3 separate regions of the Homo sapiens genome follow, and regions 2 and 3 are each linked to region 1. The links come from fine-mapping of genetic effects on gene expression. A gene starts in region 1. Each other region holds a variant in brackets. All regions are shown on one strand. Distances are between the middles of the regions. Region 1 holds the start of CCDC92 (coiled-coil domain containing 92). Region 2 overlaps CCDC92 (coiled-coil domain containing 92). Region 3 overlaps CCDC92 (coiled-coil domain containing 92).

The links.
Region 2: its variant is fine-mapped to the expression of CCDC92 in sun-exposed skin (GTEx, PIP 0.99). The same link has a PIP of 0.9 or more in visceral fat.
Region 3: its variant is fine-mapped to the expression of CCDC92 in whole blood (TOPMed, PIP above 0.99).

What each region holds. Positions count from the first base shown.
Region 1 is chr12:123,971,643-123,974,391 of GRCh38, forward strand. It overlaps CCDC92 (coiled-coil domain containing 92), which reads right to left and starts at 1,189. Exons shown (of 5, transcript NM_025140.3): 1 at 887-1,189. ZNF664-RFLNA (ZNF664-RFLNA readthrough) reads left to right here and starts at 1,573. Exons shown (of 5, transcript NM_001347902.2): 1 at 1,573-1,661; 2 at 2,244-2,378. It overlaps ZNF664 (zinc finger protein 664), which reads left to right and starts at 1,573. Exons shown (of 5, transcript NM_152437.3): 1 at 1,573-1,710; 2 at 2,244-2,378. RefSeq lists enhancers at 1-673, 674-1,411 and silencers at 632-751, 782-1,651, 1,722-1,801, 1,912-2,141.
Region 2 is chr12:123,935,659-123,938,407 of GRCh38, forward strand. CCDC92 (coiled-coil domain containing 92) reads right to left here. Exons shown (of 5, transcript NM_025140.3): 5 at 1-2,172. The coding sequence ends at 1,400. It overlaps DNAH10 (dynein axonemal heavy chain 10), which reads left to right. Exons shown (of 79, transcript NM_001372106.1): 79 at 1-56. Among named protein-coding and RNA genes, the nearest start is that of DNAH10OS, 2.0 kb to the left of the region's middle. RefSeq lists an enhancer at 2,391-2,749. The variant T/C (reference allele first, on the strand shown) is at 1,248.
Region 3 is chr12:123,940,528-123,943,276 of GRCh38, forward strand. CCDC92 (coiled-coil domain containing 92) reads right to left here. Exons shown (of 5, transcript NM_025140.3): 4 at 2,217-2,258. Among named protein-coding and RNA genes, the nearest start is that of DNAH10OS, 6.9 kb to the left of the region's middle. The variant T/A (reference allele first, on the strand shown) is at 1,456.

The sequences.
Region 1 (2,749 bases):
CTAATTTTCCTTAGTGGACTAGATCGTACTGCTAAATACCAAAACTTGAAATGAAACAATACAGGTCAGCATGAAAACCTAAGTTAGAGAAACTCACTCGCCGTAGCAGACGGCAGCCCAGTAGCCAAGCCTGGAGCTCTGCTGCGTTTGTGCATTCTGCTCCGTTTCACGAATCACAGGCAAATCGTTACTCAGAGTAAACTAAAGCCGCATCAAAGCTTCAGGAAGGGGCTGGCAAGGTAGTGTACTTACGGAAAGGCTACCAGGACGGGAGGCGATACAACTTGTCAGGGAGGGTCTCTAAGGTTCCCCGGGTGGTAACAAGCATTTAAAAAGGCGATGTGGATTCAGACGGCCTCCTCCCCACAGCATCCCAGACAAAGCCGGGCTAGGCCCCGGGGCGCTCCTGGTGCACCTGCAATGCGGATCCCTCGCCCTGCGATCCCACCCCGGGGCAGACAGGAGCGCCCCGGGACCGGCCTCTCCTCCCCCTTGGCACTGGGGTGGGCGCGCGCCGCGGCCGGTCCGCACCCTGGACTGGAGCCCGGGCCGGGGAGCCCCCTCCCCAGAAAGGGCCGGCAGACCCCGCGGGGGCGGGCGCGGGGGTCGCCGAGCCTCAGGGACCCTCTTTCCCCGACTCCGCCGTCTCCCGAGTTGCCTTCGCCCGGGGCCACCCCTGCCCCTGGGGGAGCTAACGTGGCTCCCAAGCCCCGGAGGTGGGGCAGGAGGACCCCGTCCCCCGTCTCCCGGCGGGGAGGGTTTTTAAAGTCTTCGCCACGAACTCCCGTCCCTGCCCGGCCCCTCCGCCCCTGCCCGGCCCCTCCGCCCCCGCCGGCGCTGCCAGGTGAGCGGGGCCGGACTCGACACACCCCGGGCCCCGCCTCACCTGCGGGCGCCGCCGTCGCGTTCCTTCAGGCGGCTGCCCTCTTAGGCTCGGTCCTCCCGGCGGGCGGCGGTGGGGGCCCGTGGCCCATGGGCTGGGCGGGGCGCGGCGGGCGGGGCTGCCTGGGCTCGGGCGCTGCCCGGGCCGGGCCGCCGAGGGAGGTCAGTGGGCACCGCCCGCCCGGCGCATCTCGCCCGCTCCCACCCCAGCGCTAGCCGCGGTGCACCCTGGGAGCGGGGCCGGCGGCGAGGCCTGGCCGCGCTGACCCGGCGGGCTAGGCGCCGGCGCGGCGGCGGGCCTGTGTCTGCCGGGCTGGGCGGGGGCGGCGGGCCGATATTCACTTGGCGAGGCGGGGCTACGCCCCCTTCCGCCCGGCTGTGGCGGGGCAGGGGCGAAGGCCGAGGGGAAGGGAGGGTCGGGCCCGCGGGACGCAGGCGCACAGCTCAGGTGCGGCCGCACTGCGGTTGCCCTGGGTAACGCGGCCCGAGGGAGGGGGGGGCGCGGGGAGGAGCGAGGGAGGCGAGCGGGAGCGCGCGCGCCGGGCGCTGGGGTGGGGGATGGCCGGGCCCGACCGGGCCGGGGCTGGGGGGCGGGGGCGGAGGCGGGCGGTGGGGGCGCGGGCCGGGTGGCCGCGCATGCGTGCGGCCCCCGCTCCCCCGGGGCTTCCCCGGCCTCGTGCGTGCGCACGCGCGCTGTCCCCCGGAGGCGTCTGGGTGTGCGGAGCGCGCGCGCGCGCGGCTCGGAGGCGCACCTGTGAGGTGTCCCTGAGGAGAGGGAGGTGGGTGCGCGGCGCCCGCGGCCTGGGGCGCTGACTCCCCTCACTTGGAGTGAGTTCTCGGCGGCCGGGCTGCAGTCTTTCTTTCTTTCCCGGAGGGAGGCGGGGGCCGGGGGCCAGGGAGCGGGCTGGGGGTGGGAAGGAGGTGGAGTGGCTTAAAGAAAAGAAAAACAACCCATCCCGGAGGATGGGCCTCGGGATGGCGGGGAAGGTCAGAGCGGCTCCGCGCAGCCTGGCGGGTCCCGGGCTGAGAAGCCGCCCCTCGGGCCTCGGGCGGTCGGCCGCGGGCCCGCAGTGCGGGGGAGCGGGGCCGGGGGGCGCAGATGGCGGCCGGTGCGAGCGAGGGCTGGGCAGCGGGCAGGGCGAGGCCGGGCGAGGCCCCTCGGGAGCCGGACTCCCGAGCCAGGCTCCATTGTTGTTGGAGCCGAGGGAAGGGGGAGCGCTGCCGCCCTCGTCGCCCGTGGAGCCGCGTCTTGGAGCCCTTCCAGGCGGGTCCCGGGAGAGGCGGTCATGGCCGCGCCAGGGGACCGGGGAGCCGGGCGGCTGCGGAGGAGCCGGCTGCATGGGGTGCTGTGTGTTTTTCAGGGCGCCCTGCGTCCGGCAGAGGAGGCGAGCATCCCGCTCAGGTGATGAGGAACCCCTCGCGCACCCAGCGCAGAAGGCTGCTGCCGCCGGACGCCTCCATTGTTTGACCACAACAAGGGCCGGATTCTCACCCAGGTAAACCGGCTGCCGGCGCTGTCCACTTCCCTCTGACTCCCGCCTCCGCAGGCGTTCTCACCCCTTCCAGGACTCGACTGCAGTTTTCTCACTGTCCCCGGCTTCTCATGAACTCCGTATACCCCCTCCCAGACATTTTCCCGTCCGGATCCATCTCTCCGCCACATCACCTCTCATTTCCCCCAGAACTCAGCTCCTTTGTGAAACCTTTCTTGCCGAACTCTAACAACTAAATCTCCCCGGGAGCCTGCTCCGAACTGAACTGTTCTGGTTGCTAGATTGCTTACGGGCTGTCTTATTGCAACAAAGGAGACCAGATACCGAAAAAAGATTTCTGAGCTATTGCCTTCTTCAAGGAACGTTTTCTGATA
Region 2 (2,749 bases), 36 kb before region 1:
TTAATACTACTTTTTAAAAGGAATTTATATAATCAAAAAGTAAATATTGGAGAGTATTTTAAGATGTGTGGAGTTTTCTTTTCCTTCTCAGAGAAAACACTTGATTAGGCAAAAGTGCCTGGCATACATAGCATTGGCACAAGTGAGAATCCTAATGTAATTTCCAAAGGTGTGTTTTCGATGATCCAGGTCTGTTTCAGCAGATGCTCCTTTTTGGCAAGAAGGGCTGATGATGTCGGGCACAGAGCAGAAGTGACCAGTCACCTGGAGCCACTTCTCCCCCTTCCAGAACTCTCTGGCCCTAGCTTCTTTGGCTCTGACCTGCTACGGCGACTGTGAAGTTGTTGAGCTTAGTGTTTAGTTCCTGCATGAGCTTCTACCCCCAGCCTGCCTGGGTCTGTGTGGGGTCAGGTAAGGACACAGAACCTCCAGGACCAGTGGTCACTGGGCACCCCTTCCCTCTGTGCACCATGAGGCTGGCCTGGAGCCCTGGCTGGCCACCTGGAGGTGAGGGGTGGCTTCACTCCATGAGGGAGGAGAGGGGCTAGCACGGGCAGCACAGTGGGCAGGGGCCATCAGAGGCAAAAGCAGCTTCCCACAGAAGCTCAGGAGCGCAGCACATTCTAAGGACTAGCTCTGGGCCGGGAGGAGGCCGGAGTCGCTTCTGGGACCTGTGATTGCTCTCCCTCCTGCAGTCTCCTAGCCCTCCTTCAGGTGTTTGTTTAATAAAAGACACAAAACAGAAGGAAGGCAGGTTTAGAAAATAAAGTTTGTTGGGATCTTAAACATTTTGGATAAAACTAACAAAAAAATATGAACACACATTCAGGTTGTGGTGCTATGAGGAGTAGCGTCATCTTATTTAGTTCCTTGAGATACACGCACGGCTGCTCGGTGATCGGTGCCGCCCTGGGAAAGGTTGGTCAGGAGGTGACAGGGGTCTCCAGGAGGAGCTCGGGAGGTGACAAGGGTCTCCAGGAGGGAGCAGGGGCTGCTCGGCCAGGCTGCCCTGGAGCTTGAGGATAAGGTCAAGGTTGGTATGTGTTGCTCCGACTTGAGAATGAATTAGGTGTGTGACTGTGTGGCATCGTGAACATCAGTAGTGACGCAGCCGTGGCCTGGGCTTTGCCTGCAGCGCACTTAGGTTACACGGAGCGGGATCAGAAGCAAGCGATTCGGCACACAGGCGTTTGGCCACAGCAATTAGGAAATACATATTCTGCGGCAGGGACACGATCATATTTTGG[T/C]GTGAAGAAGAGGGCAAGAGAAGCAGAAGGAGAATGGGTCGGTAGGTGTGAAAAGTGTTTGGCATGCATGGGATTAAACAGAAAAGGTGTGGCTGAGATTTCCCAGTGGTGCTCACAGTGCATGGACAGCGCGGGGTGGGGCACGGCGGGCTTCACACAGTTCTGTCCGTCCCTGAGTGCTTCCTCACCACCTTGCCTCCGTTCACCTGGTCGACCGCCAGGGTCTTCACCTCGGGCTGGGCCTGCGGCGGGGTGGCGTGGTGGATCCGATGTGCCACCCCGACGTGGGCCTTGTGCGGCTTTTCGCGGGCCGGGCTGTGCTGCTCGCCGCTTCGGTCGGAGGCGATGGGGGGGATGACGAGGGGCCTCTCTTTGATGAGGTGGACCTCGGCGGACTCCCTAGCCAGCAGAAATGGGGTGGGGTCGGGCATAGCATCCACTGGTTCCCGCAAAAGGAGTTTCCTGCTCTCTGCCCCGAATCTGTAGACCTCTTCAAATTCCGGGTGCAAGGGGGCTGAGAGGCTCTTTTTCATGCGGCGGCGAGGCGTTTCGGGTAGCTTGTCTTTGGGGGGCGCTGGCTTGTAGCTGGCCAGCACGGGGCTCCCTGACGGGCTGGCATCTGAGGTCCCGCTGGAGCTCATGAGCTTCTTCTTGGCGGCGTGCAGCTGGGAGGTCAGGTAGGCGATGGTGCTGGCCCGCTGCTCCAGCTCGCTAGACAGCAGGGTCAGCTTGTGACTCTTGGCCTTCAGCTCCTCCAGGTACTTCTTCTCTCGCTCCTTGATGGTGTTCTCCAGCACTGTGATCATCGCGTTTTTCTGCTCCAGTTCTTTCAACAACTCAGCATTTTCGTTCTCTTTCACTTTCAGTTGGGCTTCCAGCTCTTCACATCTTTTCTTTAATTCACTGCTTTTAGAAGTCCCGTCTCCTACAAGAATAAGCCGAGGAAGCAGGTGAAGAACTCATTAGACTGAGGCCGAGTGGTGAGGCCTATGGGGCAGGCGGACCTGTCTGGTGGGGGCCCTGTCTAGGCTGTGGGGGCCATGCAGAAGGCAGGGCTGTGGGGGCTCTGGAAAGACCCCTCCCCTCCCCGAGGTGGGGAGATCGGGGCATCTCAGAGGCCCTTTCCGGCTCTTAGTTCTCTGGCCTACTGCATAAAAGAATGTCTCTGAACCTTAAAGATGCTGAACTTAAAACAGGCAATTGCAGAGTATCAGACCTCAGCAAACACTTAGGATTCAACTGGCCGCAAATCCCTCTGTCTGCTCAGATGGCATTTATGGAATGCCTGCTACATTCAAAGTACTGTTTTGAAACTCAAATGTAAAAAGAATTATCCATGTCTATTGAATTAAAATTCTGATGTTTAGAGGAGAAGAGGTGTGGGGCTGTCACCTTTGCTCTGCCGCTGGCCGCCTCTCTCACCCCCCTACCCCCGTCTCTCTCACACACACACACACACAGACTCTTTCCCACTTCCTGCTCAGAGAGTGAGCTGTCTCGCC
Region 3 (2,749 bases), 31 kb before region 1:
TTCAGTGACTGTCCTTCCCAGGAATCAGCACCTCCTGTTTTGCCAATTTCTTGCTCTTTATAGAAAGCTCCACTCCACCTCCTCCTCTGTACGTACCCCCTTTCTGGAAATTTCAGTCTTCCCATGAAAGCTTGGTGCACACTGAGCTGACAGCAGCCAACTGCTGCTGGTCTCCAAACGCTGCACTGCTGAGCCTGCCCGAGCGTCAGGGCACTGCAACGCTTCTAAACCTGCGCACTCCCTGGGCCCGCCCAGACTTCTGGGGTCACAGCCCCCAGGGGAGGGAAGCCAAGAGTCTATGCTGTACCCTGGGTCCCGAAACTGCTTGGAATTGGGCAGTTTTGGGTGCACTAATGTAAAACAATGATTTTCACCACTGGGAGGGGAGACGCCCCGACTGGAACCACCTGAGAGGCTTTTGAAACTGCCTCCCCTAAGACACAGCCCTTGCTGTGAGACCCTGCTGCTGCTGGGAGTACTACATCAGGTGGGTGGGTGGGTGGGCAGGTGGCCTTGGGACCTCAGGTTGAGAACCGTGACTGGAGAGGCCACAGGGCAAAACTATGCTGCTTCAGATTAGCCTGGGCCAGGAGAGGACAGGGAGCGAGGACGCCCTGGCTTCCATGACACGGGTAGCTCCTTTCCCAAGGCTTCAGTGCTGGCAGGTGTGGACGCTGGAGGTCCCTAGTGTCAGGCTGAAATCCTGTTCCTCTGCATTCCCACAGGCCCAGCTCCCAGTCCCAGGGCTTCGGGGGAGGTCCCTGGTATCCCTCCACAGGGAGACTTCTGAGGACAGGCTCCCATTCCACCACCCCAAGAAGCCCACGGCGCCTTCCCTACCACACGCAGACAAAAAGATGTCTGGGCTCCTGGGTGGCGCACTCAGGAGGCTGTAATATGAGCAATGCAAATGGAAAAAAATCAGTGCTCGGTAATCCACTAAGGCTTGGTGGAAATGGTCTGTGTCTTTTACAAGGAACTGGACACTCTCATGAATAGTAACTGCCATTGTGAGGCCTGTTTAGAAAAAGGCATTGTGGGGAATGGAGAAGTTCTTCAAAGTTTCTTGAAACCATAAAGAGCTTGTCATTTCCTTGCTCTATGTATATCTCTATATATGTTCCAGTGTAGCTGCTCCGCCTTGCCCCGGCACGCCTGCGCAGGGCTGAGCGAGCCCTGGACCATAGTGCATGCTCTTCCTTATTTGGAAACTCTCCTGACCCTCTCATGACTAGCTTCCTCTTTTCTTTGTCCTCTTTCCCTTTTGCCTATTTAGGAAAGTTTCAAGCTGTTAGCCAATCGGGTCAAGCTTAGAATGTGAGGTCCCATTCCAGTCAATGGAAACTGGACACAGTCATAGGGCAATTGCATCAGGTTATGAAGATTATAAATGTCCTCGTCTCCTTTGTTTGAGTGTGCTCTCGTGGTAAGACTGCTGGCGAGTTGCACCCTTTC[T/A]GCAGAAAGTAAACTAGCCTTGCTGAGCCATCCATTGCCTTCCCGACGTGATAAACCCGTTTCCAACAGGTGTCTCTGCACAAACATGGATTCAGCACTTTCCAAACACCCACCCTGTTTTAGGGAGCAGGCTCTTTGCAGCAGGCACAGAGGGCCCTGGGAAGGCCTGGGTTTCTGTCTCTTCTCTGGCGGCCAGCAGGCAGCTGCCCTTTGGGGTTTCCTGAGGTCCTGGAGGATTCTGGTTTGGGGAGGGTTCTGGGGCTGTAGTCCAGAGAAAGCCCCAGATCCTCAGGGAGCTGTCTAGTAATGTGACCACTCGCCCGCCAGCATTTAGCAAGCTGCTGCTCTGTGCCAGGCCCATGCTAGGCGGCAGCGACACGGAGGAGCGGGGGCGGTTCTGCCCAATGCTGCTGCTGCTGTTACTCCTCCTTTTGGGTTTAACTCACGTCTATTTTTATGTCCTGATTACACAAGGAACACATGTTCATTGTAGGAAAATCAGAAAAACATATAATAGGCATTCCAAATATATGTGTCATTCAAAAGAAAACAAAATCACTCATCCCCCTGCCCACTAATAACCACTTGCAACACGGAGGGATCCAAACATCCTTCTCATCTTCTCTTAGAGAGCTCAGGCCACACGCATAACTCTTCCCAGCAAGAGCATTTTCTCCTAAGTGTGTGACTAGTGAAAACGGCACCAACACGTACCACAAAGGGAAACCTACTGTCATTTACTTCTGGGGAGGAGTTCTTACCTGTCTGTTCCGAACTTTTGACTGTCAGCTCATATGTTAAATCTAAAAGGGAAATGTTACACATTAATTCTTTTACTGTACATTTCAAAATCTTCATCAGCTTTGAAAATGCAAAACCGATTCCCACGATTAGCCAGCGAGTCCTACCCAGACAGAGCAGGGTTTGGCAGCAGGAGAGGTGAGCATGAGAGCAGCAGAAAACATCTGCGGCCACTGTGCTCCCTGGGGTCAGAGGGCACCCTCTGTTCCCCCAAACTCCCTTCCCCATTCCCCCACAGCATATCCCAACCATCCAAACCAAACAATCCAGCAGCTGGCTCTATGTATCACACAGGCTATATCTTGGTTATCAGTTCCAAAACACATTGGAGATTCTAACCATTGTATTTTAATCTCTTAAGTCCTCAGTATGCCAAGAAAAGGCTTTGCAGCTTTATGCTTAGTGCATCTTGATTATGCAATGAGGATGATATAAGGCATTCAGATGGACTCCTGCAACGATGATGGGAGCTGGGGGCAGGGCAGGCCTAGCA